7 linked regions of the Homo sapiens genome follow. The protein of the gene in region 1 interacts with the protein of each later gene in a biochemical or structural test. Each region holds a gene or a part of one and is shown on either strand. Other genes may lie near its edges. The genes, in order: RB1, PRDM2, RBBP7, CDK14, LIN9, CCNA1 and RAF1.

Region 1 (3,500 bases):
ATTTTCATAAATAAACACTTTTGTTCAATTTAAAGTTAAAATGTGGTGTGTTTCTTTGGTCGGGGGAGAGGGATAGTGTGAGGTTAAGGAGAAGGAATGCTTATTTTAGATCACTATATACTGAAGAATGTAATTGGTCATTATAAGCCATTTAAGAGGCTTATTTGAGTTATTTGAGGCCATCTTGGGGATAATATTTCACTAGGCTTCTCTTCTGAGTATACTGGTATACTGAATCCAAAAAAGGTACTTTTTGAAATCCCTCCGAAGACCTTTGAGATTGTAGAGTGCCAAAGGAGTATTCAAGAGTGGCCTCTACTGATATGGAAGCACTGCTGTAACCTCCATGGTTATGAAACTAAAGATTGAAGCTAGAATCCACTGGATAAACAGAACAAAGGCCAATTACAATGTTTTTAAAAACATAAATGTATATCACTTTGCAAATTATGTTGCAAATGTTAAAAGAAAGTTTTGCTTGCAGAAACAAAAGGAACATTTGTATAAGGATGCAAAACACAGAAAAAGAGGAACTTTTAGTTTCCTTATTAGTAAACAGATAAGGAAAACTGTGAATCCTCATTTATAACCAAGAAATGCATATTTTAATGAGATACCATTTTGTAACTAATGAAATTAGCAGAATCTTGAAGAATCTGTCTATCCTCTTACCAAGGATTAATGAGAATTAAAATAGATATGCCAATGGCTGATAAGATACTAAACCTGTTCCTGATATAAGTTTAGGGTATTTAAATCTTTGAAAATTTGAGATCAGCTATAAGTCCTTTCTCTAGGAAAAACACAGATTTGCTTACACTCAAAATTGGAAGGCTATTTCCTATGAGTCCGTAGACTCCAAAATAAAAAATTCTGCTCTAAATAAAAATGGTTTAACCTTTCTACTGTTTTCTTTGTCTGATAATAACTTCCAAAAAAATACCTAGCTCAAGGGTTAATATTTCATAAATAGTTACTTTTTTTTTTCATTTTTAGGAAGTACATCTCAGAATCTTGATTCTGGAACAGATTTGTCTTTCCCATGGATTCTGAATGTGCTTAATTTAAAAGCCTTTGATTTTTACAAAGTGATCGAAAGTTTTATCAAAGCAGAAGGCAACTTGACAAGAGAAATGATAAAACATTTAGAACGATGTGAACATCGAATCATGGAATCCCTTGCATGGCTCTCAGTAAGTAGCTAAATAATTGAAGAAATTCATTCATGTGCATATGGCTAACAAATTATTGTTAGTGAGAGGTGTTTCTTAACATCTACCTCAAGAACATATAGGGAATTTAATGAATAATGTTATTTCAGTCTATAGCCCAAGGATCAAGTGGAATATTAGAATGGAGCTTTAATCGAGCACCCTAAACCATCTAATACAGCACAGTGATTTATTTAAGAATAGCTTTTCTTAAAACATGCCACTTTAAAACAAAACGGATTTTTTTTTTATACTTTAAGTTCTAGGGTACATGTGCACAACGTGCAGGTTTGTTACATATGTATACATGTGCCATATTGGTGTGCTGCACCCATTAACTTGTCATTTACATTAGATATATCTCCTAATGCTATCCCTCCCTCCTCTCCCTACCCCATGACAGGCCCCAGTGTGTGATGTTCCCCACCCTGTGTCCACGTGTTCTCATTGTTCATTTCCCACCTATGAGTGAGAACATGCAGTGTTTGGTTTTCTGTCTTGGCAATAGTTTGCTCAGAATGATGGTTTCCAGCTTCATCCATGTCCCTACAAAGGACATGAACTCATCCTTTTTTATGGCTGCATAGTATATATGTGCCACATATTCCATGGTATATATGTGCCACATTTTCTTACTCCAGTCTATTATTGTTGGACATTTGGGTTGCTTCCAAGTCTTTGCTATTGTGAATAGTGCCACAATAAACATACGTGTGCATGTGTCTTTATAGCAGCATGATTTATAATCCTTTGGGTATATACCCAGTAATGAGATGGCTGGGTCAAATGCTATTTTTGGTTTTAGATCCTTGAGGAATCGCCACACTGTTGAACTAGTTTACAGTCCCACCAACAGTGTAAAAGTGTTCCTATTTCTTCACATCCTCTCCAGCATCTGTTGTTTCCTGACTTTTTAATGATCGCCATTCTAACTGGTGTGAGATGGTATTTCATTGTGGTTTTGATTTGCATTTCTCTGATGGCCAGTGATGATGAGCATTTTTTCATGTGTCTTTTGGCTGCATAAATGTCTTCTTTTGAGAAGTGTCTGTTCATATCTTTCACCCACTTTTTGATGGGGTTGATTTTTTCTTGTAAATTTGTTTGAGTTCTTTGTAGATTCTGGATATTAGCCCTTTGTCAGATGGGTAGATTGTAAAAGTTTTCTCCCATTCTGTAGGTTGCCTGTTCACTCTGATCGTAGTTTCTTTTGCTGTGCAGAAGCTCTTTAGTTTAATTAGATCCCATTTGTCAATTTTGGCTTTTGTTGCTATTGCTTTTGGTGTTTTAGTCATGAAGTCCTTGCCCATGCCGATGTCCTGAATGGTATTGCCTAGGTTTTCTTCTAGGGTTTTTATGGTTTTAGGTCTAACATTTAAGTCTTTAATCCATCTTGAATTAATTTTTGTACAAGGTGTAAGGAAGGGATCCAGTTTCAGCTTTCTACATATGGCTGGCCAGTTTTCCCAGCACCATTTATTAAATAGGGAATCCTTTCTCCATTTCTTGTTTTTGTCAGGTTTGTCAAAGATCAGATGGTTGTAGATGTGTGGTATTATTTCTGAGGGCCCTGTTCTAAACCAAAACAGAATTCTTTAAAGTATTTAGATAATTTATTTAAAGTACAGTTGTTATATATTTGAAAATGCAAATGTCTGCTCTTAAATTGTGAGATTATGCTATTTAGATTATTAAAAAGTGCATTTTTTTCTTGTTAAATATAGTAGGATTCATTTTTTCCCATTATTAAAGTATAAAAATGTATACTATTGTTCAATTATAGGTATTGGTTCAATCAATATAGGGGCACAAATTATATTGTCTAGGATTCTCTTTATAGCATTATAACTATTGATAAGGCTTTTGTTTTAATAAAAGTGGCAACTTGAGGTTATGCTCTTCAAATCAACATAGTTGGATAATACTTTGTGAATCATCAGTTTTGTAAATTAATGGTTTCTTTTGAAACTGTGTTGCATGCTAAGTATATATCTTTTAATTTGTATCAGTATATAGAAGTGGTAATTAAAAAATTAAGACTTTAGGTATGCCATAATCCTAATTTGCACATGTAACCTTAGTTTTAATTTCCTTACGTTTTGAATTTTTAATGACTAAGCGATAATTTATTTCTTAGTGTTTTCTTGTATTGCCATATAGACAGAGTGAATAGAGGAGAGAAACATGGGAAATTGATAGAAGAATGTTACACTCCTATTATTGAATTTCATAACTACTTATGGAATGAATTTACACTTGATAAGGAGTACTTAGAAGAAAACTTTCTGA
Region 2 (4,194 bases), on another chromosome or scaffold:
GGGCGGCAGTTATCTGTGGTAAGGACAGTCAGGTGATGTCCCTCATCATCTGGAAACTCCCTTAGCTACCCATCGTCATGCAAGTTTGACGATTTTCCCCCAACCATCAACCTCCTCCTCTTCCACTCCCCATTATGGAGTTTTCTAGTAGAAGTCCGCTGTTTTGGTTTTTTTTCTGCATGAGTATTAAAAATAACATGAAAAGCTACTCAGAAGACATGAAAATAGTAAATAACCTAAGGTGCTTTCCATCCTGGAAAGTCTATGATTTAACAGGACTTAAAAAGGGTTTGTAAATCAGGTTTGGAACTTGAAAAGAAACAGGCTGCTTAAAGAAACAGTCTCATGAATAAATAAACATCTAACGTAAAATAATCATCAAAAGAATAGGCGCAGATATATGTACATAACTGCACAGCCACAGCCAAGAACGGAAGAAAGGAAGCTGAAATTGAGTGTTACTTCTTATGACTGCACCCGCAAGAAAAATGCTTATTTAGATGCTAAAAAGCAGAATTTATATTTTTCACTGTAATCTCAAAAGATTACAGAACTTTAAAACCCACGATTTTAAAAAAACTTTCAAACAAATCTTAATGAAAAGAAAACTCAGGCTTGAGAAACCTTACAGATCAATATGGACTTGATTGATAACTTACGGCCCATCCACATATTAAATAGCCATTAAACATAATATTGACTAGTTAGTGGCATGGATACATGCTCACCGTATCATAAGGCAAGACAGGTTGCAAACAATATACACACTATATTATCAATCCTGTATAAAATGTAAATAAATATATATATATGTGAATGAACTGTAAAATAAGGAAAGAAATACGCATATCCACACCAAGAGAGACAGGAAGATCTGCCAAACGTTAACAATGGTTATCTGAAGAGGGGAAGGTTATGCCCAATTTCTGTTTCTTCTTTGTGCTTTTCTCTACTTTCCAATTTTCTACAGTGAGAATCTTTTGTTATGTTTTGTACTTACAAAATTAATACATTCTTACAGATTTAAACTGTACTGTTTCAGGCCCTGTCCACAAAATAAGGAAAAAACAAACCTGAACATACCAACCTTTCAATTAAAGAAACCACCTTCAGAATCAACAAAAGCAAACATTTACTGAGCAGTATTATCATGTTCTGGCACTTTTCTAAGCACTTAAAATGTATTAACTTATTTCAATCAAACCAAAACAGATGTGTTGAGTAAAAAGAGCCCTGGAATCACAGAAAATGTAAATGAGTTTTAGTTCCACTGTGAATTTTGATTTGTTTCCATAGCTCGAAATGAGGGGGTTTAATAAAAATGATCTTTAAAGGTCATCTCAAGGCTAAACTAAGATTCTACATGTAAAAATTTGGCCAATAAGTGTTAGTCCGGAAGCCTCAAGAGTGATGGGGCAGTTTGGACCATCTCAAAAACACAGAACCCTACTAAAAAAGAACGTATGACAGTGTGTCTCAGTTCCTCCTCCTTAATATATGTAAATTTCCTATCATGTTTTTTTTTAAAAGGCCTACATTTTTCTAATACTTGGACACAACTGATCAAACCGAGGCGAAGTGTGTACCATTGTAAAAGAAATCATTGAAGAGTTCCATTTGTTGTTAAAAGTTTCGGTCACTTTTAATAAACCTGGAGTAAACAAAAACTTAAACATTTTAGTCGAGTTCTGGGGTAAAAATGATTCTTCTAGTGTCTGGTTAAAGGGATCTAAGGACCTACTGGGATTCAGCAAAAGACGTTCCACGTCTCAAATACACCCAAAATCTCAATACAACACTAAAAGAAAAGTGAGGGGCCAGCACGAAATTTCTGTTAGGGGAAATTTCAGCTGCGTAGTTAAGGAAATCAGGACTTCCCGGTTAACTATGGGGTCTTTGCCGCAGCTCACAGCCCGACACAAAGCTACAAGCCCGGAGGGTCGGTGGCTCACGCGTGGATCGAAAGAACCACGAAGGTTTGGGGAATGACACTGACCTGTTAGGTTTACTTCATGTCTCACTTACCACCATCAAAAGAGGTTCATTGATAGCTTTATTAGCAAAATTAGTAACAGAGTTGCACGTCTGTAACACACACACACGCGCGCGTGCGCACACACACACATACACCCGTGGGTCTATGGGAACATTGAGGGAGACAATCTCCAGGTTAAAACCACACAAAAACTATTTGGGAAACACAAAGACGCAAGACACAAAACAAATTTGGAGTGCAAATGTGCAAGACACACTCAGTGGGAACACAAAAGAGAAAAGCACAGCGGCTTGACAATTGGGACGGCGCCCGGCCCCACGTGGGGCCCCAGGTGGCCCCACCGCCGCCCGCACCCGGCCAGTCTCTGCAGCCCGCACGCGTCCCCCGCGGGGCGCGCGGCTCTTCACGGCGACAAACCGAATCCCGAACTTCGCCGCAGGGACCCCACGGCCGACAAGGAGGAGCCCGGCGCCGCCACCCACCCGCGGGGCCACCGACCCGGAGGCCCGCGCCTCGTCCCGGGGCCCCCGGCACGCCCGGGACCTCTGAGGGGGCGCGTCCGCCGACCCGGCCATCCCTGCGGCGCCGGGTCCCCAGCGTGTCGCCGCCGCCGTCGCCGCCGCGCTCCTCGGGGGGAGGGACCAGCGTCCCGGCGCGAGCCCAGAGGCCGCCCACCCGCGCCACTCCTTACCCGCGCCCGCCGCGCCAGCGCCTCAGAGCACCGAGGGCCGCCGCCGCCGCCGCTGTTTCGCCGGCCCCGGCGCCCGCGGCCGCGCCGCCGCCATCTTGACTCCAGTCGGAAGTGACGTCGGGCGGCGAGGCAGTGGCCTGCGGGGCTGGGGGGCTCCGGGACCCCCGGTCTCCCCACGATCCCAGAGCCCGGCCCTTGACCCTGCGCCGTCGCCCAATGGCCACCACCCAGCCGCCCCTCGTAGGTCACCGCGGATCCCATGGCGGCGCCTCGGGAAGGAACCCCGGCGGCTGGCGTCGCGGCAAGTCCGACCGCACCCTAGGGCTAGGATCCTGCGTGGTTCAAAGATTCTCAAAGAATCAAAAAGACTGAAGGAGGTGTTGGGGGGGCATGTCTATCGTTGGAGGTCATTAAATATCTGACAAGTACATAAACGTAGACCTTATACTTCTACGTTTGGATCTATACCAAAAAGATCCAACTCCAGGCAGACAGACGCAGCTGCTGGGTTTATTTGCTGCCCTAGTACCCAGGAGCAGTGACCAACGCTGCCCTGTGCCCGCGATGTTCCAGTGCAGCGCCTCTGAGAGCGCGGTAGTAGTCCTGCCCTTAAGGAGCTTGCTGTTCCCAAGCGGGCAAACAAATGGACTGCAGAGACGACGACTCATAGATGTTCTGATGAAGATGAACTGGGTGGAACTGGAGATGGCTCTTCGACATCCAAGGGTGGAGGCCTAGCACGTGGTTGAAAATGAGTTGAGTCGGGGAGAAGCACAGGCTGGAGATGAGCTGGAAAGTTGGGAGTTGTCGTTATAGATGGTGCCTGGAGCCTTCAGCACTTCAAGATAAAGTAATCCTCTGAGAATGAAGTCAGGAAGAATCCGAATGTGATGGCTACGTTGGCCATCTGCAGAAAGCACCCAGTGGAAAAACAGGATACTAAGGGCAGGTGTGCTTCCAAAAATTATGAACGATCATTTATGTAACAGGTTTAATCTTAAGAAAACGTGTTGGCCGGGCGCAGTGGCTCACGCCTGTAATCCCAGCACTTTGGGAGGCCAAGGCAGGTGGATCACGAGGTCAGGAGATCGAGACCATCCTGGCTAACACGGTGAAACCCCGTCTCTACTAAAACTACAAAAATTTAGCCGGCCGACGTGGCGGGTGCCTGTAGTCCCAGCTACTCCGGAGGCTGAGGCAGGAGAATGGCGTGAACCCAGGAGACGGAGCTTGCAGTGAGCCAAGATCGCCCCACTGCTCGCCAGCCTGGGCGACAGAGACAGACTCCATCTCAAAAAAGAAAGAAAACGTGTTGTATCAACATATATCATGTTATCTTATTGTAAAAGAATGAGGCTAGGCCGGGCGCGGTGGCTCAGCCTGTAATCCCAGCACATTGGGAGGCCGAGGCGGGTGGATCACGAGGTCAGGAGATCGAGACCATCCTGGCTAACACAGTGAAACCCCGTCTCTACTAAAAATACAAAAAATTAGCCAGGCGTGGTGG
Region 3 (3,500 bases), on another chromosome or scaffold:
ACTGTCTTAATGATAATATCCATTAAAAAATGTAACTCAATATTGGCCGGGCGTGGTGGCTCATGCCTGTAATCCCGGCACTTTGGGAGGCCAAGGCGTGCGGATCATGAGGTCAGGAAAGCAAGACCATCCTGGCTAACAAGGTGAAACCCCGTCTCTACTAAAAATACAAAAAATCAGCTAGGTGTGGTGGCGGGCGCCTGTAGTCCCAGCTACTCGGGAAATCGCTTGAACCCAGGAGGCAGAGGTTGCAGTGAGCTGAGGTCACACCACTGCACTCCAGCCTGGGTGACAGAGCGAAACTTCGTCTCGAAAAAAAAAAGAAAAAAAAAAAGAAAAAAAAAATATATATACTGAATATTAACAAAGGTATTAACTGAATTATTTCAGCTACTTGTTAGAATACACTGGATGTGTAACTTTAATAATATATTAACATCATTATGCAGAGACTGTTAAACTGCAAGCCCGGTAAATACATACTTCAGGGCTAAAAGCCATTTAAAAATTTCTGATTACAATATATTCAGGCCGGGAGTGGTGGCTCATGCCTGTAATTCCAGCACTTTGGGAAGTTTAGGCAGGCGAATCACTTGAGGCCAGGAGTTCGAGACCTGCCTGGCCAACATGACAAAACCCAGTCTCTACTAAAAATACAAAAATTAGCCGGGCATGGTGGTGGACGCCTGTAATCCCAGCTACTCTTGAGGCTGAGGTACGAGAATCACTTGAACCCAGGAGGTGGAGGTTGCAGTGAGCCGAGATTGCACCACTGCACTCCAGCCTGGGCGACTGAGCGAGACCCTGCCTCATAACAAACAAAAACAAAACACAAAAAAACCCCAATATTTAAAGAAATAATGCATACAGTTGTCGGGGAATGAACAGTAAATTGTGGGAGTAGTAAACTGGGTAAATCACTTTGGAAAATAGTTTTCTATGAAGTTGACAATGAATACACCATACAACCTAGCAGTTTCACTACACTAGAGAATGTAGTATTTTTGAGACAGGATCTTGCTCTGTTGCTCAGGGTGGAGTGCAGTGGTGTGATCCTAGTTCACTACAGCTTCGAACTCCTGGGCTCAAGCGATCCTCAGCCTCCCAAGTAGCTAGGACTACAGGCATGCGCCACCACACATGGCTGATTTTTAATTTTATTTTTTGATAGAGACAATGTCTCACTGTGTGCCCTGAGTGGTCTTAAACTCCCAGGCTCAAGCGTTCCTCCTGCCTTGGCCTCCCGAAGTGTTGGGACTATGGGTATAGCCACTGCACCTGGCCAGTATTTTATTTTCAATAAGAAAAAAACCCTAAGGCACATATTAGAAAGTGCTAATAGCGTTAAGCCATTTGGGACTGTGAAGAAAGAGTTAATACAGCAGTCTGGGTGCTTAGCCCTGGAGTCTCTGAGGAACACTGGGACCCTATTACTGACCCTTGGCTAACTCCTGGGAACATGCACCTCAGAATGTTCTTTCTGTCACTGATGAACTGATGATTTTGTGGTGTGCACCTGGAGCAATGGACCGCGTTGTACCAGTTTGTCAGGGTTACTCTGCAGATATCAAGATTGATGACACGTACCTTCTTTTATTACTGGGTCCTCAGTTTGTATTACTGGGGTCCTCAAGTTACAGTTGCTGTGGCTGGTTGTCAGCAGGATGTGCCTATGCAACTAGTCCCCCAAGAAAGCCTCAGACCCCAAGACCCAAACAGGCTTCCCTGAGCAGAGATATTTCACACATGTCCCTGCAGTTTGCTGCCGGAAGACACATCCTGTGTGGCCTTGGACAAGACTTGTGCCAGACCTCCCTGAACTTGCCGATGTACATCTTTTTCCTGCTGCTTTTGTGTTCTTTACTGTAACAAACTTTAGCCACAAGTATAATTTGCTCTTGGGAGTCCTAGCAAAATCACCAAACTTGGGGTGGTCATGGGAATACCAAAACAGGAGAGTATATGTTTGACAAATTAAAAAAAGAAAAAAGCAGCCAACAGATTCCTGAATTAACCCTACCACTACTGCCTCTCTCCTCAAACAAAAAATACCCATTGCACACACCAACACATATTACTTTTACCAAAGTGGAATACTGTAATTACACATAGCAGTTAGTCACTTAATTTATCTTGGATACCTTCCTATACCAGTGCCTACAGATTTTTCTCATTAAAAAAAAAAATTTTTTTTTTAAATTTTTGGTAGAAATGAGGTCTGTGTTTTTCAGACTGGGCTTGAACTCCTGAGTTCAAGCAATCCTCCCACCTTGGCCTCCCAAAGTGCTGGGATTATAGGCGTGAGCCATGGCACCTGGCCTTTCTTATTAATTGCTGAGTAGTATTTCAAACATACCATGTGCTTAACCAACTTTCTATGAACCAACATCTGGGTTACAAGGTTGATCCTAATTTTTCAATTCTGCAATTACGACTAAAATCCTTGTGCACATGTGGGTGGGAAGTTCTGTAGAATAAAGTCCTAGAAGTTAAATTACTGGGCCAAAAGCTAATAGTATAGTTTTAATAGCATATGCTTTGAAAGAGACATTTTCCCTTTGACACCAATATTGGAATATATGATATACCTACCACCCTTGTCACTGTCACAATGGGAAGCATCAAACTGTGCATCATCATTGGGAATATGTACTCGAGCAACCACCAGATGATTCTGCTCATCAGACGTATGAGTCCCCAGCACTAGCCAATGAAGGGCATAATCTTTTCCTTCAGGTCTGTTTAAGAAAGAAAATAAGTCACACTAATCCTACAAGAAATCTCCAATTGCTAACAAATTCAGTCTAGTTCCCTCAAAATACATTCATATTTCTTTAGCAAATATATACTTAGCATCAACTGTGTATCTTCTCCCCCTCTGGTTACCAACTTTACAATCCCCACATATGCAAATATAAGAAAATATTCTAGCTACAACATGCAGAGGGCTTGCTTCTTTCCCAAAGAGCCATCCTCCTGTGCCTCAATTATCAGCGTGAACACTACCTTTTATAGAGCAGCACTCCGGGGAAGGTAGGCCCAACTCAGTAAACACAGACAAACATCTACACAGGAATCCACCAACAATCCCCACACTCATAAATCACAACTTCCCACCTAAAGAAATCTTCTTCCCACCTAAAAATATCTTATACACTAGATGTTTCTTATTTCCCAATAAGAAATTCTACAAGGTAGTATGGACAGAAAGTGTTGAATCAAAAAAACTTAGCTTAAATCCTGGATCAAACTAAAATGCAGTTGCTTAAAACACAACCTCCCTGGGGCCTCAGTTTCTTCACTGAATAAAATAGGCTATAAGTGCAAATGGCATGATGTGAAACTCACTGACGTTTATGATACCTAAGTTTATGAAACGAACATTCTCAATTTTACCGAGGTATCTTTGTTACCTTGTTCTGTGGAAACACCTTGAGGCTGAAGAACTTGCCCAAACCTCTTGGCACCTTGGTCCGAGCAGTGATTTTTGCATCAGTATC
Region 4 (3,500 bases), on another chromosome or scaffold:
CAGAGACACAACAAAAAAAGAAAATTTCAAGCCAATATCCCTGATGAACATGGATGAGAAAATTCTCAATAAAATACTGGCAAACCAAATCCAGCAGCCCATCAAAAAGCTTATCCACCATGATCAAGTCGGCTTCATCCCTGGAATGCAAGGTTGGTTGAACATAAGCCAATCAATAAATGTAATCCATCACATAAACGGAACCAAGGACAAAAACCACATGATTATCTCAAAAGATGCAGAAAGGGCCTTTGACAAAATTCAACAGCCCCTCATGCTAAAAACTCTCAAGAAACTAGGTATTGATGGGATGTTTCTCAAAATAATAAGAGCTATTTATGATAAACCCACAACCAGTATCATACTGAATAAGCAAAAACTGGAAGCATTCCCTTTGAAAACCGGCACAAGACAAGGATGCCCTCTCTCACCCCTCCTATTCAACATAGTATTGGAAGTTCTGGCCAGGGCAATCAGGCAAGAGAAAGAAATAAAGTGTATTCAATTAGGAAAACAGGAAGTCAAATTGCCTCTGTTTGCAGAGACATGATTGTATATTTAGAAAACCCCATCATCTCAGCCCAAAATCTCCTTAAGCTGATAAGCAACTTCAACAAAGTCTCAGGATAAAAAATCAATGTGCAAAAATCACAAGCATTCCTATACACCAATAACAGACAAACAGACAGCCAAATCATGAGTGAACTCCCATTCACAATTGCTACAAAGAGAATAAAATACCTAGGAATCCAACTTACAAGGGATATGAAGGACCTCTTCAAGAAGAACTACAAACCACTGCTGAAAGAAATAAGAGGACAAAAACAAATGGAAAAACATTCCATGGTCATGGATATGAAGAATCAATATCATGAAAATGGCCATACTGCCTAAAGTAATTTATAGATTCAATGCTATCCCCATCAAGCTATCATTGACTTTCTTCACAGAACTGGAAAAAACTACTTTAAATTTCATATGGAGCCTGCATAGCCAAGACAATCCTAAACAAAAAGAACAAAGCTGGAGGCATCACACTACCTGACTTCAAACTATACTACAAGGCTACAGTAACAAAAACAGCATGGTACTGGTACAAAAACAGATATATAGACCAATGAACAGAACAGAGACCTGAGAAATAACACCACACATCTACAACCATCTGATCTCTGACAAACCTGACAAAAACAAAGCAATAGGAAAAGGGTTCCCTATTTAATAAATAGTGTTGGGAAAACTGGCTAGCCATATGTAAAAAGCCAAAACTGGATCCCTTGCTTACACCTTATACAAAATTAACTCAAGATGGGTTATAGACTTAAATGTAAGACCTAAAACCATAAAAACCCTAGAAGAAAACGTTGGCAATACCATTCAGGACACAGGCATGGGCAAAGACTTCATGACTAAAACACCAAAAGCAATGGCAACAAAAGCCAAAATTGACAAATGGGATCTAATTAAACGAAAGAGCTCCTGCACAGCAAAAGAAACTATCATCAGAGTGAACAGGCAAACTCCAGAATGGGAGAAAATTTTTATAATCTATCCATCTGACAAAGGGCTAATATCCAGAATCTACAAAGAACTTAAACAAATTTACAAGAGAAAAAAGAAAACAACATCAAAAAGTAGGCAAAGAATATGAACAGACAATTCTCAAAAGAAGACATTTATGCAGCCAACAAACATGAAAAAAAGCTCATCATCACTGGTCAGTAGAGAAATGCAAATCAAAACCACAATGAGATACCATCTCACGCCAGTTAGAATGATGATCATTGAAACATCAGGAAACAACAGATGCTGGAAAGGCTGTGAAGAAATAGGAATGCTTTTACACTATTGGTGGGAGTGTAAATTAGTTCAATCATCGTGGAAGACAGTGTGGCAATTCCTCAAGGATCTAGAACTAGAAACACCATTTGACCCAGCAATCCCATTACTGGGTATATACCCAAAGGATTGTAAATCATTCTGCTATAAAGACACATGCACACGTATGTTTACTGCAGCATAGTTCACAATAGCAAAGACTTGAAACCAACCCAAATGCCCATCAAAGATAGACTGAATTAAGAAAATGTGGCACATATACACCATGGAATACTATGCAGCCATAAAAAAGGATGAGTTCATGTCCTCTGCGCGGACATGGATGAAGCTGGAAACCATCATTCTCAGCAAACTAAGAGAAGAACAGAAAACCAAACACCACATGTTCTCACTCATAAGTGGGAGTTAAACAATGAGAACACATGGACACAGGGAGGGGAACATCATACACCAGGGCTAGGGGAGGGATAGCATTAGGAGAAATATCTAATGTAAATGACAGGTTGACGAGTGCAGCAATCCACCATGGCAAGTGTATACCTATGTAACAAACCTGCATGTTCTGCACATGTACCCCAGAACTTAAAGTATAATTTTAAAAAAAGAAAAAATATATTTTTTAAAAGGGCAGCAAACAGAAAGGACTCAGAAAAAAACAGGATATTATAGCATCCTGCTGAAAGAGAAAACGAAGCCATTTCCAGTTTGATAAGGTAAGAGAAAAGACATTTTTCCAGGGCACATTGAATTGAAGCAAAAATTCCTAAAATAAAAAGAAAGCAAAGCAGTTCCCACACAAAGTAATATAAATGACCTAATATATATTAAAAAAAGTCATCCCAGGGTGAACCAGGAAAGGGTAAGCCCAAGATGATCTAAAGAAACTAAAAAATACAATAGAGAAACTGTGAAAACTTCCAGTGAAACTTGATGGCTTGAAAACATGTATTTATCTCTCCCCCTTACCAATTCATACTAAAACAATACTAAAATTAAAACCCATAAGGGCAATCAAAATGAGTAAAGAGAACACTAGAGACGAGATAGAAATAAAAATGTAAAGACAGGACACAAATGGTTGAGAAGTCACATTGCCTAGGATGAGTGGGGAAAAAAAAAAAAAAAAAAAAAAAAAAACCTTGATACCTACATGATCCAAGGCATAAGCCAGTAAGAAATAAGTCAATTCATACTTCAGAATCCCAAAAATACTCACAAACTGGAAGCTGAAGTTCAAGTTGGGGCTACAAATGATATGATTAGTTGGAGTGAATTTAAGGTGGAGGTCTTTGCCCCAGTCTCCCTCGGCCAGCCCCCTATCCCTTCCTAGTCCCGCCAGAGATTTATTCTCTGAAGAGGTTGAATCAGAGAATTCAACTGGGGCTTGGATACCAGGCAGAGTGGATATCAGATTGAAGAGTCATACCGAATGAAAAAAAAAAAAATCATGAGAAAGTTGGCATAGAGAACTGAAGGGTCCTCAGTCCCTTCTTGATCATCTCAGAATAGTGACAGCTAGGTTTATATGTCCTAAAAAAAATAAATTGGGTAAGTCCATTTTGTGAGAAACACCCAGTAACAAAAACAAGATCAAGAGACAGCGACATTTGAGAGTACTTAAATAAAACGACTAGGTCTTCACCAAGAGTCCCTATGCTGAA
Region 5 (2,754 bases), on another chromosome or scaffold:
GGCTGTCCTGTTGAGGAATTTGCATGCCGAACAATTTCCTGTGCTTCTTCCTCACACCTGCGTCTCATATCTGTTGGCTGATCTGCAGGCTGGAGCCCCTGGTCTGGAGCAAGCTGAATACAGATGATTGAAGCATGAGACGCATGTTCGAGAAGCCATGATTATTTCTGTATGTGTTTGTGCCCTCTTTTCAGATTTTAATTTTTATAAAACTAGCATTTAAAACTAAAGTGGTACTCTTACCTTAGAAGTTTTTTTCCTTTAACAGTTTCTGATTTTCTATTTTTTGTAATTTTTAATTTTGATATAATTTCAAACTTCTAAAAAAAGTTAAAAGAATAAAACAAAGAACTCTTGATAACATTTACTCAGATTTACTGTTTATGTTTTACTACATTTGATCTGCCATTTGATCTCTGTGAATGTATAATTCTTCCCGTTACTAATTTAAGAATAAGTTGCAAACACTGTGCCTCATTACCTCTAATCACTCCAGTTTGTATTTCCTTGGTATTTTTGAAGAGTACGAGCCAATTATTTTGTGTAATATCCCCCAATGTGGGTTTGTTTGTTTCCTTATGATTAGACTGAAGTTATGCATTTTTGGGCAGAAATACTACAAATGTGGTGCTGAGTTCTCTGGCATCTTTATTAGAAGGCACGTGATGTTGACCTGTCCCATTACTGGTGATGTTCTCTTTGATCAATTGGTAAGTTAAGTGTCTGCCAGATTTCCCTACAGTAAAGGATTTCCTTTTTGTAAGTACTAAGTAGTTGTGAAGAGATACTTTGAGGCTATGTAAACATCCTATTTGTCATCAAACTTTTACCTACCAATTTTAGCATCTGTTGATGATTCTTGTCTATATCAATTATTACTATGATGGTTGCAAAATGGTGTTTTTCTCACTCTTAACACTGCTTCTATATTTATTAGTTGGCATTTTACTACAAAGTAGTTTCCCTTAAAAAATGAACTAGTATCAGTATGAACCCATACTGACATAACTTTTATTCTATGGGTTATAATCTCTTACTATATTTATTTATTCTGAAGCTCAAATTGTCCCAGATTTGGCCAGTGGGAACCCTGTCAAGCTGGCCCTTTTTGACACGTCCCCGTAATTTGGGGGCACATTTTACTTCCTTGGCATAATAAGGTGGGCCGGGCTCATCTTCTTTCTCTGCCTCAGGTCTGGAATCAGTCTCTTTTTCAAGAAGTCCTGCTTTTTTAAATTGGAGAACAGAGATAAGAGACCAAGATCTGGGTCTAGTGTGTTCTTTGCTATTAGGGTGTCTTTGCTTTTGGCTCTCTCAGCAGACATATACACTCACTTATACATATAGCATAAAGATAAAATAAACCATGAATTCATACTGATTCCCCCTATTCCCATCTAATGCCACAGGGTTCACTCTAGTCTTCCCCCTCTTCATAACTGCCTTCTTCAACAGTGAGAAACCTGGCTCGCGTTATCCTAAATTTTTTTTTTTTTTTTTTGAGACAGTCTCACTCTGTTGCCCAGGCTGGAGTGCAGTGGTGCGATCTCAGCTCACTGCAACCTCTGCCTCCCAGGTTCAATATACTTATTTGCTTCTTTGCTCAGTCCTAGAGTACACAGTAAGAGTTTCAGAACTGCTGCTGGGTGTGGTGGCTCATGCCTGTAATCCCAGTACTTTGGGAGGCCGAGGTGGGTGGATCACCTGAGGTCAGGAGTTCAAGACCAGCCTGGCCAACATGTCTCTACTAAAAATATAAAAATTAGCTGGGCATGGTGGTACATGCCTGTAATCATAGCTACTGGGGAGGCTGAGGCAGGAGAATCGCTTGAACCCCGGAGGCAGAGGTTGCAGTGAACCGAGATTGCGCCCCTGTACTCCAGCCTGGTGGACAAGAGCGAAAATCCGTCTCAAAAAAAAAAAAAAAAAAAAAGAGTTTCAGGACTGCTATGCATGCCACCAAGAGAAAAAATTCTACTAACTAGAGTTCAATGTTTATTTAAATTTTGGTTCAGACTAAAGGTATACAGTCAAAATATAAGTTGAGTATCCCTTATCCAAAATGCTTGGGACCAGAAGTGTTTTGGATTTAGGATTTTTTAAAATTTTAGAATATTTGCATTATACTTACCGGTTGAGAATCCCAAATACAAAACTCCAAAATCCAAACTGCTCCAGGGAGCATTTCCTTTGAGTTTCACTTTGGCACTCAAAAAATTTTGGACTTTGGAGCATTTCAGACTTGGGATGCTCAACCTATGCTATGTTCAAGCTATCTGAATCAGTTTTTATCCCCTTCAGTAAGTTTATGTCACTCCTTTGAAATATAGTTAGGTTCATTTATTTCTGTTTGCATTTACTTGTATTTGTTGGGGAAACAAACACTCAGAAAAATGTCATTCCTTCTTGCTCACCAACTCCTACCCCATTCCCAAATTAGTTTCTAATGTATCCTTTCTGCTTCCTTTTGAAAAATTAAGCTGATACATATACATTGTATTTCCACTTATTTCCTACTCCAAAGGTTATACTTTGGAATATGTATGTGTATTTTCGTATTTGCTTTTTGCATCTAATAACATATCCTGGAAATCACTCTGTGTCAGTAAATAGAGAACTTCCTCTCTTACAGCAGCATAGTATTCAATTGTGTGGATGTACCATAAATAGTCAGTTCCCTATGTGTGGGCATTTATGTTTATTTCTAATATTTTTTAATTACCAATAATGCTTCAATGAATAACTGTATCCTTT
Region 6 (3,500 bases), about 12 Mb from region 1:
TTATCAAAGGACACATGACTAGTTTTAATTATCAAGCATTGCATTTCTTCAATAAGAAATAGAGGACAAAAATTCCATGTTTTGACAAGTGATAGTTTCATATTATGCAAGCTGAAAGAACACTTACGAAGCCAAAAGCATAGCTGCTGTTCCTACGAGCTGCAGTTTCCCTCTCAGAACAGACATACATGAAAGGAACCTGTCCAGGAAGTTGACAGCCAGATACAGGGTCTCTGCTCGAAGTTTATATTCTTCCCCAACCTCCACCAGCCAGTCCACCAGAATCGTGCGCATGCCTTCCGTGATGTCTGGCTGCTTCTTCATGTAGTGTGCTTTGGGTCTGTGCCTTATCTGATTGGGAAAAGGTTTTGATATTTAGTAGTTGCAATTTCAGAAAGATCATTCCACAATATAGTTGCTATTTAAAAATCTCACAAGCAAAGGTTGGAAAGATTCTGATCAGAGCCAAATAAATCTTTATCATAACAAGGAAGAAAGTGTAAATTTCTGGTTCTGTAAAGTAATTGGTTAGCAAATTAACCTGGGGTTGGGGGGGCAGGGGAGAATGGCAATATGAATTATTCCTAAGAGTGAAATATTTAACATATAAACCCTTTGAATCATGTAGAAATAGTCCAAGCAATTGCGACTTGCCATCACAACTATTATTTTTCATAGATATTCTTATGTTTAGCTGGCATAAGAGTGCCATTCACTAGTGGTTATGGACCAAGAGTTTATAATTTATCTTAGTAATAAGAGCTCGGGTCCTGAAGATTGAAGTAGAAGGTGGGAAAACTTACTTCAGCTTCCCTAAGGTACTGATAAATTTCTTCAGCATATTCAGTCACATTTATCACATCTGTGCCAAGACTGGATATATCTTCAGACTGGGAGAGGAGAGATGAATCTACCAGCATAGGGGAAACTGCAAGAGTTCAACACTGTCAGATAACTCATTTAATTTAAACATTTGTTCAATCCACTAACCCTCTACAGGCAGTTGTGAATACAGTTATTACTTGCTGTTTTTCTCTTGCTAGTTACTAGCTATTGAATGCTGCAGGCAGTTATAAATACAGGGTACCATCAGCCATCAACCATAGGCAAGTCAGTTACCTGTGTTGAAATCCAGCAGGAAGTGCAGGTCTGACTTGAGTGTGCCGGTGTCTACTTCATACACATCCTCAAATGCCATCCCCTCTCTGACCGAGCAGCTGTCTCTGTCCCCCTGCTCTAGTTCATCCATGTAGATGTCAAACCCTTGCTTGGGGGGCTCTTGGACCCCACAGTCAGGGAGTGCTTTCTTTCCAGCTGGAGGGAAGGCATTTTCTGATCCAGAATAACACCTGATTCTTGTGATCCCCTAAAAAACGTTTAAATCTTTTGTTAGAGGCCACGTCAAAGACCACAGAGGCAATGTGAACCTGCATGACTCAAACCAACAGCCTGGGAAGGTAAGATACATTCTAAACTGAAAAATCTATGTCGGCAATTTAATTCCAAAAAAAAAAGGTCTTCAAAAGTGTAATTTTTCCCCCCTTATCTTTGTCTACATTTGATATTTGGAGAAAGAGCTACCTAAAATTTTAATCTACCTCACATATGTATCAAAGGAAACTCAAGATTGTAGAAAAAAGAAAACCTATAGCTCTCTTCCAAAATGAAATGGGTACCACATATAAAGGGAAAACTGTAAATTGGCTTTCATATTTATAGCATCATGAGATTTTATAAGTAGTCAGCATAACTCTTGATGCAGTGACTGAGTTCCTACAATTCCCCTCCTTAAATAAATAACTTTTTAGCCAGAAGGCCCCTATAATGTTTCCATTTTATATCCACTTATTAAGAAACACGATTTTGGAAACTGATGCTGCTAAATTCTCTTACAAGCCACAGAACCTTTACGTATGACATAATGCATTTACTCTTGGGGAAATTTCTTAGTCACTTCTCCTTTTTCTCTATTCTTATAACATGAACAATGGGAACAACTGTGGTGCCGCCACAGTGAACAAGCATAATGCATCAAACACTGTTGCATATTAAGGTGAGCCATGCCAGATGGCATGAATGTCAGCTGAATCAGGGCAGGTGGGCAGCTCTATGAACCTGAGCTATATTTACGCAAATGCCAGCTCTGTCTACCACATTAACATTTTGTTTATAATGTATCTTGGTGTGTACTGTTGAAGGCTACTTCTAAGTTAGTAGGTGGTTCCATAACTCTCCCTTTTATTTATCAAGTTAAATAGGTGACTTATGTCTGTAAGAAAACGAACACTTATGGTAGTAATTGGGGGGAAATCACAAAGACAACAAAGAGTCACAATCATAAGTTACTGTAACCAGATAACCAAGTTACTGCGAAGTTTGACTCTTGCTACAACCACAGCTCCAAGTTACTGCCAGGTTTGACTCTTGCTACATAGATACTGTGTCCATAGGCTGGGACATATATTTAATAAACAAATATTTACTGAGTATCTACTATGTGCTAGAAGCTTTTCTCGTGCCCAGAATTTAGCAGTGAACAAAATGTTTAAAAAGAACTACCTTGATGGAGTTTATATTCTAGTCTGTGGAAGAAGACTGAAACAAACTAGAAAAGACACAGTAGGAGCAAACAGAGCAGAGTGAGACAGTCATATAGGCCATGAGGACAGAAAGAAAAAAGAGGCCAATCATGAAGCACTTACCATAGGCCAATTAAGGATTAGTTTTCATTACTATTATTTTGTTTTTGTTCACTTGCCAAGGCTGATCTAAGAATTGGCTTTTATTCAGAGACAGGAGCCACTGGAATTTTGGGCAAAGGAGTGGCATAATCTTTTCATTTCTTAAAAGGATGATTCTGGCTGTGCACAGGTGGAGAGTAAGTAAGCCAATCAATTACAAAACTTGAAAATTCTAAGTGAGACACAATAGGGATTTGAACCAGGGAAGTAATTGTAAACCATGAAGAGCAAAATAGTTCTAGACATTTAAAAAGTAGAGTTAATAATATTTTCTCATAAGATTAGATGTGGGGTGAGAGAAAAATAAGAATCGAGGAAGACAAAGGTTTGGAGGCTAAATAACAGAAAGGATGGCTACTCCATTTACTGAGACAAGGAAGACTTGGGAAGAGCAGTCTGGGAGTAGGGAAAAGGATGGGTGTTTCGTTTTATACGTTGCTTATTATATGACCTAAGTGGAGATGCCAAGTAGGCTCCTGAATATGTGAGCCTGCAATAAACCTCAGAGGCCCAGGCCAGAGATAGAAATATCAGTCATCACCAAATAGAGAGTGTTTAATGCTAGGAGACTAAGAGGCTACTAAGGGAGTGAGTGCAAGATTTAGATCAAAGACTAGGTCCTAGGGCACTCTAACTTGTACAGACTATATATATAAGTAACAATTAGAATATCAAACAGTGGCCAATGAGCTAGGTAGAAAACTTGGAGAGAGTGGTGTTCTACAAGCTGAATGAGAAGAAATTATTTCAAGGAAAAAA
Region 7 (3,500 bases), on another chromosome or scaffold:
TTTCCAAGGGGTGCTGCAGCCTGTGTTGGTCCTAAAGGTGGTCCTTTGTTTGTAGGTCAATGTGCGAAATGGAATGAGCTTGCATGACTGCCTTATGAAAGCACTCAAGGTGAGGGGCCTGCAACCAGAGTGCTGTGCAGTGTTCAGACTTCTCCACGAACACAAAGGGTAAGAGCTCAAAAGTCAATTGACTTCTTCAGACTAGTAAGGATCTTCTAGCTTCAAATAGCTATGTTTGTATTAAATTGTACTAGCTTCCTATAGAATATTGTATATTTCTATACCTTTCTTTATAAAGAGATAATTCAGAAAAATAGGTATTAAGAAATTGAAATTATTGCTTGGACATTCTCTTGAAAAGTTAAATACACGTTAAGCTGGGCCTGATGACCAATACCTGTAATTTTTTTTTCTTTTTGAGGTGGAGTCTTGCTCTGTCGCCCAGGCTGGAGTGCAGTGGCGCGATCTCGGCTCACCGCAAGCTCCGCCTCCCGGGTTCACGCCATTTTCCTGCCTCAGCCTCCGGAGTAGCTGGGACTACAGGCGCCCACCACCGCGCCCGGCTAATTTTTTGTATTTTTAGTAGAGACGGGGTTTCACCGTGTTAGCCAGGATGGTAATACCCGTAATTTTAACACTGGGAAACTGAGGCAAGAGGGTTGCTTGAGGCCAAGAGTTCAAGACCAGCCTGGGCACATAGCGAAGGCCCATCTCTACAAAAGATTTTTAAAAATTAGCCAGGCATGGTGGTGCGGCCCTGTAGTCCTAGCTGTTCGAAAGGCTGACGTGAGAATATTGCATGACCCCAGGGGCTTGAGGCTGCAGTGAGTCATGATTGTGCTACTGGACTCCAGCCTGGGCTGGAGCAAGATCCTGTCTATTAAAAAAAGCCAAAAAACAAAAAAACAAAAACAAACACATGTTAGGTATTGATAATGTTTCCATGGATGGAAACAGTGATGTTAGATGCTGTGTTTTTTTGAGACAAAGATTTTTCTTTGTGTTTACTCTAATGCATTATATAGACTGGGCACTCAGAAAGTGCATTATTTTATATAAAGAATGCTATCCTCGGGAGATTGACTTTTCTCATTCACTAATTTTTTTTTTTATTCAGTTAAATGTGTACTAATCCCTGCTGTTTGATAGATTGTTTAAAGATGCAGAAGCATTTCTGCTTCAGGGAAGATTCATGGTTTATCCTATTCCTAATGGTGGTGGCAAGATAGAGGCATCCCCTCAAAGGCTAGGAGTAATACCTCAAAGCAGCAGAGCTGTCCATAATTATCCATTATCCATTATTCCCTCCACCCCGAAAATATAGGGAAACCTTTAAAGGGTTCTTTTTTACCCTCTTCTTGGAAAGCGTCACTTATGTTATTCATCGTTAGCTTACATTTTTTCATGTTTCAAAGAGTTCTGCAGTTTGGGAGAATAGCCCAGGGAATGAATCTACTCGAAGGGGTGAGTGTAATTCTCAATTTAGGAGGCGTTTGTTGAAGTGCAAATCTTTGAAGCAGACGTTAACTTTTGCTGAAGGTAGCCCAGGTTGGGTCCCTAAGCCAATCCATAGTGTTCCTTAAGGACTAGAGAGATTCTGAGACAGGGAGGGCTTGGTCTACTCTCATCCAAGGCTGCACTGGTTTGGAGCTACTCTGGAGTCTCTAGGACAGACAGCAGATTGTCACTAGGATCAGTCTGCAGATTGATGAGAAAATAAGGCTTGTCCTCCTTCTCTTCATAAGGGCAAAATAGTCCTTTGGAGTTATAGGAAGTTTTCCAGGTGCTGTATAGGTAATTATATTAAGGAATGTATTGTTTACTGTTGGATAGTGAGAAAAATGGCTTGACTAGGCTTCTGGTAGATAATGGAGAGGCTTGAATGGTGCTATACATGTTATTTTCTCTTTACCTGAGAATATTCTTCCTTTGGAAAATGGGCCAGATTAACTGGATAAAACATAAGAAAGGAATTGGGCATTACTTTTTACTTATGTATCTATTTTTTGTCTTATTTATACTGTAGGCACAGAAAGTGTGGTTTCAGAGTAGATTTTAAGACAGTTAAGTTTCTCATTGACTTATAGACCCTACAACTACAGATTTGAGTCTGTTATTAATTAATAGAAAAGTACATTTTTCATTTGTGGTTCCTTTCTATTTATCTAGATTGAAATAGGCTACTGAAGACTAAATTTTGTACTGCAGCAATATTTATAATCCATTTTACAGGATTTGGGGATTTTTGTAAGATTTTAGTGTTACAAATTCCAATTTAACGTATATTGACTTTATTGTGAGATTTTATATATCATTGTTTAAAGAAAACTTTATTCTGGCCAGACATGGTGGTTCACACCTGTAATCCCAGCACTTTGGGAGGCTGAGGCAGGAGGACCGCTTGAGGCCAGGGATTCAAGACCAGCCTGGGCAACACAGCAAGACTCTCTCTCTACCAAAAAACATTTTTTTAAGTAAATAAAGAGAAAACTTTATTCTGAGAACATGGGCTTTGGAGTTCAACAGACCTAGATTCCAACATAGGCCCTTAAACTTGCTGTGTGGCCTTGAGCAAATTACCTTCTTAGAGTCCCAGTTTTCTTATTTTTCAGATAGAAATAATACCTACTTCATAGGTTTGTTGTATGAATTAAATAAATTATTGTTGTATGGATTAAATAAAGTTGTGTTTATATGGCATGTGATAAATGGTAGCTGTTGTTATTTCTATTGAACTTTGATCTTGTTTAAACATTTCATGTTTTTTTTAAATCCTTTCTAGTAAAAAAGCACGCTTAGATTGGAATACTGATGCTGCGTCTTTGATTGGAGAAGAACTTCAAGTAGATTTCCTGGATCATGTTCCCCTCACAACACACAACTTTGTAAGTTGCAGATCTCTTCTCTTTCTGGCATGTTGAGGGCTTTGCCAGGCATAACAGAGATTTCTCAGGTAATATGCGTATGTATATATATATATAGTTGGATTGTTTAAAGTTCTTTATGCTGTTGTTTACAGTAAGGCAATTTAGATTTCATTAGTCAGAGATATACTCTAATTTGTGATTATGAATTCTGTACATGCTGGAAGTATGATTCATTTTGTAAAAACTTTTTTGGAGGCCAAGAAATGAAGTTGTCTTTTGTCATCTTTTATTTATTCAGCATAATTTACACCTGTGTTCTTGTTGTAGGCTCGGAAGACGTTCCTGAAGCTTGCCTTCTGTGACATCTGTCAGAAATTCCTGCTCAATGGATTTCGATGTCAGACTTGTGGCTACAAATTTCATGAGCACTGTAGCACCAAAGTACCTACTATGTGTGTGGACTGGAGTAACATCAGACAACTCTTGTAAGGCATTGTTCTTTTATCCAAGGAAGATAGGGATGAGGAGTATACATACTTTAAAGGGTATTTGTTGTAGATTTTGACTGACAGGTCTGGATTCTAGACTCATTTAATGAATTGTGATCCAGAAACTACTTTAGAAACAGTGATA

Evidence for each region.
Region 2: the proteins of RB1 (region 1) and PRDM2 form a complex in vitro, tested with the Homo sapiens proteins (2 studies listed by BioGRID, with this or other methods).
Region 3: the proteins of RB1 (region 1) and RBBP7 form a complex in vitro, tested with the Homo sapiens proteins (3 studies listed by BioGRID).
Region 4: of the proteins of RB1 (region 1) and CDK14, one has a biochemical effect on the other in vitro, tested with the Homo sapiens proteins (2 studies listed by BioGRID).
Region 5: the proteins of RB1 (region 1) and LIN9 form a complex in vitro, tested with the Homo sapiens proteins (2 studies listed by BioGRID).
Region 6: the proteins of RB1 (region 1) and CCNA1 form a complex in vitro, tested with the Homo sapiens proteins (2 studies listed by BioGRID, with this or other methods).
Region 7: the proteins of RB1 (region 1) and RAF1 form a complex in vitro, tested with the Homo sapiens proteins (3 studies listed by BioGRID, with this or other methods).

Annotation. Positions count from the first base shown.
Region 1 is NC_000013.11:48,380,251-48,383,750, forward strand, and holds part of RB1 (retinoblastoma-associated protein), read left to right. Parts: intron 1-996; coding exon 997-1,193; coding exon of another isoform or gene 1,194-1,205; exon of another isoform or gene 1,206-3,500. UniProt on the Homo sapiens protein: Tumor suppressor that is a key regulator of the G1/S transition of the cell cycle. The hypophosphorylated form binds transcription regulators of the E2F family, preventing transcription of E2F-responsive genes.
Region 2 is NC_000001.11:13,698,794-13,702,987, reverse strand, and holds the start of PRDM2 (PR domain zinc finger protein 2), read right to left. Parts: upstream 2,801-4,194; 5' UTR 2,688-2,800; intron 1-2,687. UniProt on the Homo sapiens protein: S-adenosyl-L-methionine-dependent histone methyltransferase that specifically methylates 'Lys-9' of histone H3. May function as a DNA-binding transcription factor.
Region 3 is NC_000023.11:16,860,363-16,863,862, forward strand, and holds part of RBBP7 (histone-binding protein RBBP7), read right to left. Parts: intron 2,739-3,500; coding exon 2,593-2,738; intron 1-2,592. UniProt on the Homo sapiens protein: Core histone-binding subunit that may target chromatin remodeling factors, histone acetyltransferases and histone deacetylases to their histone substrates in a manner that is regulated by nucleosomal DNA.
Region 4 is NC_000007.14:90,728,821-90,732,320, reverse strand, and holds part of CDK14 (cyclin-dependent kinase 14), read right to left. Parts: intron 1-3,500. UniProt on the Homo sapiens protein: Serine/threonine-protein kinase involved in the control of the eukaryotic cell cycle, whose activity is controlled by an associated cyclin.
Region 5 is NC_000001.11:226,233,411-226,236,164, forward strand, and holds part of LIN9 (protein lin-9 homolog), read right to left. Parts: intron 114-2,754; coding exon 1-113. UniProt on the Homo sapiens protein: Acts as a tumor suppressor. Inhibits DNA synthesis. Its ability to inhibit oncogenic transformation is mediated through its association with RB1. Plays a role in the expression of genes required for the G1/S transition.
Region 6 is NC_000013.11:36,435,495-36,438,994, reverse strand, and holds part of CCNA1 (cyclin-A1), read right to left. Parts: intron 1,367-3,500; coding exon 1,120-1,366; intron 929-1,119; coding exon 804-928; intron 352-803; coding exon 128-351; intron 1-127. UniProt on the Homo sapiens protein: May be involved in the control of the cell cycle at the G1/S (start) and G2/M (mitosis) transitions. May primarily function in the control of the germline meiotic cell cycle and additionally in the control of mitotic cell cycle in some somatic cells.
Region 7 is NC_000003.12:12,608,618-12,612,117, reverse strand, and holds part of RAF1 (RAF proto-oncogene serine/threonine-protein kinase), read left to right. Parts: intron 1-55; coding exon 56-168; intron 169-2,782; coding exon 2,783-2,885; intron 2,886-3,194; coding exon 3,195-3,352; intron 3,353-3,500. UniProt on the Homo sapiens protein: Serine/threonine-protein kinase that acts as a regulatory link between the membrane-associated Ras GTPases and the MAPK/ERK cascade, and this critical regulatory link functions as a switch determining cell fate decisions including proliferation, differentiation, apoptosis, survival and oncogenic transformation.